2 linked regions of the Homo sapiens genome follow. The protein of the gene in region 2 interacts with the protein of the main gene of each other region in a biochemical or structural test. Each region holds a gene or a part of one and is shown on either strand. Other genes may lie near its edges.

Region 1 (3,748 bases), on a different chromosome or scaffold from region 2:
CACTAAGTCAGCACCATTCACTGTTTGATAATGAAGAGGCCTACCAAATACAAAGGCACTTTTGGCTTAAGGGCAAAGACTACCTCTTCAATTCTGTGTAAAAAAAAAAAATCAGTGAATAAAACTTAGCACCCAAGTCTCACCCCGTACTATGCTTTGCTACAGGTGCTGAAAAGTTTTCCCTCGATACTCTTCAATCTGGCTTCTACTGCTCTATCATTTAACTGAAATGGAACAGGTAACCAATCCCAAAGGTTTTACTTGCAGACAAAAGGCTTTTGTTCACAGTTGTATTACCTTAATTTTTCAATACAATTAATTAAAGAGTTTTCTCAACAATGTTCTAGTTATTTTATCAGTTTACTTTCCTCACATTATTTGGAAGTCTATCTCCCTTTTAAAGCAAAAGACATCTTCTGGTATAGAATCCTATATCCTATCTCCACTCTTTGCTTTCACCTGTGAATTCTTTCTCTGTGTAGTACATTCCCACAGCTTCATCACCTCTACTTCAATGTAGCAGTGAAGCAATGTAAATCTCATCCCTCTAATAATTCAATGCATTTTTGTGTTCCTAGGCATCTTAAGGACAAAGGTTATATTGCTTTAGTCTTCCCAAAATAATAAAATTGTATTTCATATTTTATATAATATATACATACAAAGAGAGGGAGAGATTCCTAATTTTGCTAAAGCCCTGAATCTATCTTCAATTTCTTCCCTGAATGCTGTGAAACACTTGAAATGTACTGTTGACTTTTAATGAAAAGGTTACAGAAGTCTAAAGTAAAGGCTTATATTATACATTGCTAAGTTCTCCATTCCATCTGGCCTTACCTTCTGCAAGGTGCTGCCTGAGGCAACTGAAATTATCTACCCACTCTTTCCTCTCATGGTACTTTCTTGGAAATAATGACAGTCTGCTAACATTAGCAAGTAATAACTACAATAATAATAGCATTAATAATTACTATTTTTCTTTTTCCTCTTTTTTTTTTTTTGAGACAGGGTCCCACTCTGTCCCCCAGGCTGGAGTGCAGTGGTGCAATCTGGCTCACTGCAGCCTCTACCTCCCAGTTTCAAGCGATCCTCCCGCCTCAGCAACCTGAGTGGCTGAGACTACAGATGTGCACCACCACACCTCGTTAATTTTTGTATTTTTTTGTAGACACGGGGTTTTGCCATAGTGTCAAACTCTTGGACTCAAGCAATCCGCCCACCTTGGCCTCCCAAAGTGCTGAGATTACAGAGGTGAGCCACTATGCCCAGCCCCATTCTGCATTTTACATGTATTAGCCCACTGTTTCTCAAACTATTTATGGTAAAGGCCCAGTTTATTTTTTCTCTGATACGTCAAAGATCAACACTTTTATAAGATATAACCAGGTTTGCTTGATTTAATTTTTTTAGAAGCAGAGTCTCACTACGTTGCCCAAGCTAGTCTCAACTGAGGCTCAAAAGATCCTCCTGCTGTAGCCTTCTGAATAGCTAGAACTACAGGTGTGCACCACCACAGTCAGCTAACAATCAATTATTAGAAAAATGAAAAAAAGTCTAAATTTTTATTAGATTTGACATAAAATTATGTGAAATCACTATAAAAGTTTCTAACCCTCTCAATTTCTATATATTATACACCAGTGTAACAAATATAACAATTTTGAATAGCATGATATTCGTTCCCTTCATCCTTAGAATAACCCCGTGAAGTTATTGTTATCTGCTCTAGCTGCAATTTTGTGAGGTAGCTGTTATCATTATCCCTGTTAGTCTGAAGAAGACTAAGCCACCAAAGTCCAATTAAATCGACGTTAAGGGCCTGATTTATGATTCCTTACGTAGACTGGAAACGGCAAACACATTTCACTCCTGTGTCTACTTCATCAGAGGGTAGCTTTCCGAAGTGCCATGTTGAGGAAGATTCTGAGGCCTCTCTGGGCTCAAGGAGAAAGCATTTGATGACTAGTCAAACACATGTGCCATGGAGACAAGAATGGCAGCTTAGATGCCCTGCATTGGCCATCCAGGATCTACATTATTCCATGTTTGTATATAGAATTTCCTGTGCCATTCCTTCTCCTGGAATGTTCCTCCCTGGTATCTGCACGGTTTTTCTTACCTCCTTCAAGTCCTTACTTAAACCATTTTGCCGGTGAGGCCTCCCCTGTTTTCCCTAACTAAAATCCCAAGTCCCCTCCCCTTCAGAACATTTCATATCCTGTCCTTGCTTTATTTCTTCTGCCTCTTCAGCACTTACCACCACCTAATATCCTTATTTTGTTTTCCTGTCTCCCCTGGTAGAATGTGAGTTCCATGAGGGCAGACATTTTGTCTCTTCTGGTCACTACTACAGCCCCAAGGCCTGAGATAGTCACTGACACAGAAATATCTGCTAAATGAATACTTCCAAATTGAAGAATGAAGTCATAAGGCCCTGGTAGTAGAGTGAAATGTGAGGGAGAGACTGGGGATGGGGGTTTGGGTTCACAGTTAAAACATACCTGCAGTCACCTTACATGGGGAGACCCCATGGTAGGTCAACCTGCACAAAGTACAGAAGGCAAAATTGCAGCTGGAGCAGATACCCATGGTGCAGCCAGGTTCCTGCATCACAGGCAGCTGGCAGCACGGCCGGGGGCAGTACACCACATCTGCCATCAGGTCCAAGGAGGACTGGAGGAGAAGGCGGTCATAACGGGCAAATAACTCTGCTTCCACTAACTCTTTGACCTGGAGGGAAATACAAAACACCATAGGTTTGATGATTCCACAACCAGTTCTGAACCTGAGGCGATTCTTAGGATGCTAGTGTAAACCAGATGGGCACATAAATTAAAACCTCTCTTTCACTTCAAAATCAAACCAAGTACATTTTGACTGAGATGACAATTATAGGGGTCTACACATTTGTTAAAACTAAGCAAAGTGTCCAATTTATTTTATATTTTAGTTTTATTTCTTTAGAGATGGGGTCTTACTCTGTCGTACAGACTGGAGTGCAGTGGTGCAATCATAGCTCACTGCAGCCTTGAACTCCTGGGCTCAAATGATTCTCTACCTCAGCTTCCCAAGTAGCTAGGGCAACAGGCACTTGCCATCATGCCTGATTTTTTTTTTTTAAGACATGGAGTCATGCTATTTTGCACAGGCTGGTTTTAAACCCCTAGCCTCAAGCGATCCTCCTATCTTGGCCTCCCAAAGTGCTGGGATTATAGGTGTAAGCTACCATGCTAGCCTTGTATGATTTAAATGTGTAGTTTATTTTAAGTAAAATTATGCTTTAATAAGAAAACAAAAAACTGGCCAGGAGCAGTGGCTCACGCCTGTAATCCCAACACTTTGGGAGGCCAAAGCGGGAGGATCACTTGAGGTCAGGAGTTCAAGACCAGCCTGGCCAACGTGGTGAAACCCCGTCTCTACTAAAAATACAAAAAAAATTAGCCGGGCATGGTGGCGGGTGCCTGTAATCCCAGCTACTTGGGAGGCTGAGGCAGGAAATCACTTGAACCTTGGAGGCAGAGGTTGCCGTGAGCTGAGATCATGCCCCTGCACTCCATCCTGGGTGACACAGCAAGACTCCATCTCAAACAAAACAACAACAACAACAACAACAACAACACCACCACCACCTAAGTAGGCTGTACTTCTGCTGAAGTCTATAAAAAAGTTGGTTAATCATTCTAAGAGACGTCCCCTTCAGATGCCAACCTCACACAAGAATAAGCTAGTGATTCCCCAAGGTTTATGG
Region 2 (3,748 bases):
GAAGCCCAGGAATGACACCCAGAAGACACAAGAGATCATAAGGAAAGGCCAAACTGGAAAGTGAGTGAAAGAAACAGGCTTGCTTAAAAGAGGAAGCGGGAACAGCCAAAGCGAGGCTGGAACGATGTTTAGCTCGGTGCTAATGGGCAAGAGTGACTTACACGGCAGGAAACAGCCAGTTGAGCGCAGAGGGTGCTGGGAGATGGACACCCTGCTGCCTCACTGCGTGCGCACACCTGTCGGGATGGGAGACGGGCGCCCTGCTGCCTCACTGCGCGCACACCTATCGGGAAGCCCCAGACGGCTATCCCACTGCTTGTCACCCGCCAGAGAAACCCAAGACAAAGGCACCAAGAGCCACACACACACAGACGTTCACAGCACCAGATGAAAATCAGGAAGCACCCACTTGTCCTGAAGTGGGTCCCTGGCAGCTTGAACATCCCCACACCCCAGGCCATCTGCTGAAAAGCCTGAGGCAAAGGCCTAGCTGGCTACTCTGCCCCATGGCCTGTCCCTCCTCTACCACTGCCTGACCCTCATCACTGGGGTAAGTCTTGAAACCACAGACTCCACTTCATTCTTTAGAAAAATGGTTTTAACTGTTCTAGGTCCTTTGCCTTTGCATGTAGCTTGTGTAGTATAAAAAACTGAGATTTTGTTAGGACTGTGTGAAATCTACAGATTCACTCAAGGGGAATGATTTAGCAACATTTGTAGGAAGCCAGCTCTGAACTGTCAGAGTGGGCACGCCTGGGCAGCACCAGGGGCAGAACAGCCACGGAACCCAGTGCACGGAGGGGACGCAGCTAATGCACAGGCAGGAAAAGGGGTCAGAAATCCCGAAGTCAGGAAGGAAGCTGTCGTCAGCAGCATCAGATACCAGAGGCTAAGAAACTGAGGACTGAGAACAGCCCCTCGGCAAGTGGCAATTCGGAGGGGTTCCCTGGAGACCCTGAAGGAGAGCAGAGGGCAGGGCTGCAGAGAGCAAAAGGCATCCCCCAGTGAGGGGGAGGTCCGCGGGGACGGGAGCAGCAGTGCCATAGAGGGAAATGGGAGGGGCAGTAGGAACACACATTCTCTCTCTGAAGGGAGGCTTTCCTGAGACCCAGGACCAGCACAGAGCCACACACGGTTGTGGGGAACAACGGAAGCGATGGGAGGGGACCAAGATAAAAGCACAAGTGACAGGGTTGGGGCTGGCAACGGCCGCACCACACCCAGGGGCTGCCCCCTCTTCTCCCAACTGTGTCCAGCCCTGTTGGGGGAGCAGCTCATCTCCACCAGCAACTGACCTAGCTGGTGAAGTTGAGGGAGACTGGGTGTGGATACAGAATTAATATTCACTATTTATTTTTAAAAAACTAAAACCACAAAACAAACAAAAAAAATGTAAAGCTGGCATAATTTTGCTTGTCAAAGACCACCACCCATTTTGGTTTTTTTTTTTTTTTTTGAGATGGAGTTTTGATCTTGTCACCCAGGGTGGAGTGCAGCGATCTCGGCTCACTGCAAGCTCCGCCTCCTGGGTTCAAGCGATTCTCCTGCCTCAGCCTCCTGAGTAGCTGGGACTACAGGGCCCCACCACCACGCCCAGCTAATTTTTTGTATTTTTTTAGTAGAGACAAGGTTTCACCGTATTAGCAAGGATGGTCTGGATCTCCTGACGAGTTTCACTCTTGTCACCCAGGCTGGAATACAACGGCACGACCTCGGCTCACTGCAACCTCCGCCTCCCGGGTTCAAGTGATTCTCCTGCCTCAGCCTCCCGAGTAGCTGGGATTATAGGCATGCACTACCACACCCGGCTAATTTTGTATTTTTAGTAGAGATGGGGTTTCTCCGTGTTGGTCAGGCTGGTCTCGAACTCCTGACCTCAGATGATCCGCCCACCTCAGCCTCCCAAAGTGCTGGAATTACAGGCGTGAGCCACCGCGCCCGGCCGACCACTACTCACTCGGTGGTATATATTCTTCAGATCAGCTGAAGGCACACACACGCATCGTAACAAGTACTTTAACACGCCCTGGACACCTGCTCCCGGGCCTTATCTCACCACGGCCTGCTGGCATCCCCAACGCTGGTCATGGGCAATGACACGATGATGGAGGGCCCACCCTACAGATGTACTCCCGCACTCTGGCTGCCCTAGTTGCAGATGATCCAGAACTGGGATTCCTGGGCCAAAGGAGAGTCCACAGGTGTGGCTGTGTTAACTCGGCCAAAATGCCTTCAGGAGAGCCTTTTTCATTCTTACCCACCCACAACCCTCCCGACAGTCCAAAGCAGGGGTTGCAAACCTTCTTCTAGCAGCAGCACTCTCTTCTAGTGAAATCTCATCCAAAGCCTCCACACACAGGCAAACAGAGCCTGCTGCTCCAGCCACCTGAAGCCGGGGCCCTGTGGCTGGACAGCAACTGCTGACCTGGCCCTGCTCTGCCTTGTGCTTGCCGGCGGGACAGTATTCACGGGCACACTGACTACTGACCTGGTCCAGATCGAGGCTGGCGCCAGCCTCCGCCAAAGGCCCCAGAAACTTACTGACAGCTCCAGCATCTTCTCTATAAATGACACTAGGTCTCTAGGTGGTGTCTGCTGACCTGGAGGGGTCAGGCTGCTGGATCAGCCTTGGTAGTCGATGAAGGGCTGAGGTGCTGGACAGGTCCTGCAGCCTACCGAAGCCCCAGGTGCCACCACACAGGGGTACTTCCACTTAGCTCAGAGACCGTCCTGGGGATTGCGAAACCCTGGGGGCGCCCAGCACAGAAGGCACACTGAATAACTGAATATATGTGCCTTTCCTTTGATGATATGCACTGGGTCTTAAGAAATAGTAGAACAGGCCAGCTTCAGTGTTTACCCCGGTCTGGTTTTCTCAGCTATGGCCCTATGGTGTCAGAGGCTGGTGAACACAGACGCTACAGGCGGCCCTGCAGGCTGAGACACATCAGCAGAGCAAACACTTCCAGCGTGTGGAGAAGCAGACGAGGAGGAGTTCCAACTAAGCCAATTTAACTAGCACACATCCAAAGTAGAAAGGCTGCTGTTTGCAAATAAAAGATGTTGAACAGGCAAGGCTGACTGAGAATATAAAAACCGCCTGGTGTTCTTCTCCTAAGCACAGAATCCTTACCTTCATAAGGGGTCATCTCTGGGCCTCGGACGACATAGTGCCTAAGGGAGAGAAGAAAATTACTTGGGATTTGAGGACAGCAAATTCTCCAAAATCTGAATCATTCCAAGCCTGGGGTTTATAGAACCCAGCCAAAATTACATTCACATTCAGGCAGTGAACAAATGAAGGTGAAATGTCACACAGCCACACGGCTTCAAAACCCCCGTCTCTTCTACCGTGGGTGCTTTTAGTCTCTTGTAACAGGATCTTAGAGACTATACTTTATAAGTTTACCATAAAGTACCTTTGTTTCGACAATATAACATGCACGAAGCTCATCTTAATAATAACTGAAATCTTAAATAAATTTTAATTTCACAGTACATTACTAAGATGTACTTGAAGACTGTAATCCCAGCACTTTGGGAGGGCACGGTGGAAGATCGCTTGAGCCCAGGAGCTTGACACCAGCCTAGGCAACATAGCAAGACCCCACCTTTATTTAAAAAAAAAAAGTTAGCCGGGTGTGGTAGTGCATGCCTGCAGCCCGCCTACTCAGGAGGCTGAGGCGGGAGGATCACTTGAGCCCAGGAGTTTAAGGCTGCAGTGAGCTATGATTGTGCCACCACATCC

The links. The genes of interacting proteins can lie anywhere in the genome.
Region 1: the proteins of UBE2J2 (region 2) and RNF14 form a complex in vitro, tested with the Homo sapiens proteins (one study listed by BioGRID).

What each region holds. Positions count from the first base shown.
Region 1 is NC_000005.10:141,979,105-141,982,852, reverse strand, and holds part of RNF14 (E3 ubiquitin-protein ligase RNF14), read right to left. Parts: intron 2,731-3,748; coding exon 2,502-2,730; intron 1-2,501. UniProt on the Homo sapiens protein: E3 ubiquitin-protein ligase that plays a key role in the RNF14-RNF25 translation quality control pathway, a pathway that takes place when a ribosome has stalled during translation, and which promotes ubiquitination and degradation of translation factors on stalled ribosomes.
Region 2 is NC_000001.11:1,260,213-1,263,960, forward strand, and holds part of UBE2J2 (ubiquitin-conjugating enzyme E2 J2), read right to left. Parts: intron 3,175-3,748; coding exon 3,134-3,174; intron 2,179-3,133; exon of another isoform or gene 2,073-2,178; coding exon of another isoform or gene 2,057-2,072; intron 1-2,056. UniProt on the Homo sapiens protein: Catalyzes the covalent attachment of ubiquitin to other proteins. Seems to function in the selective degradation of misfolded membrane proteins from the endoplasmic reticulum (ERAD).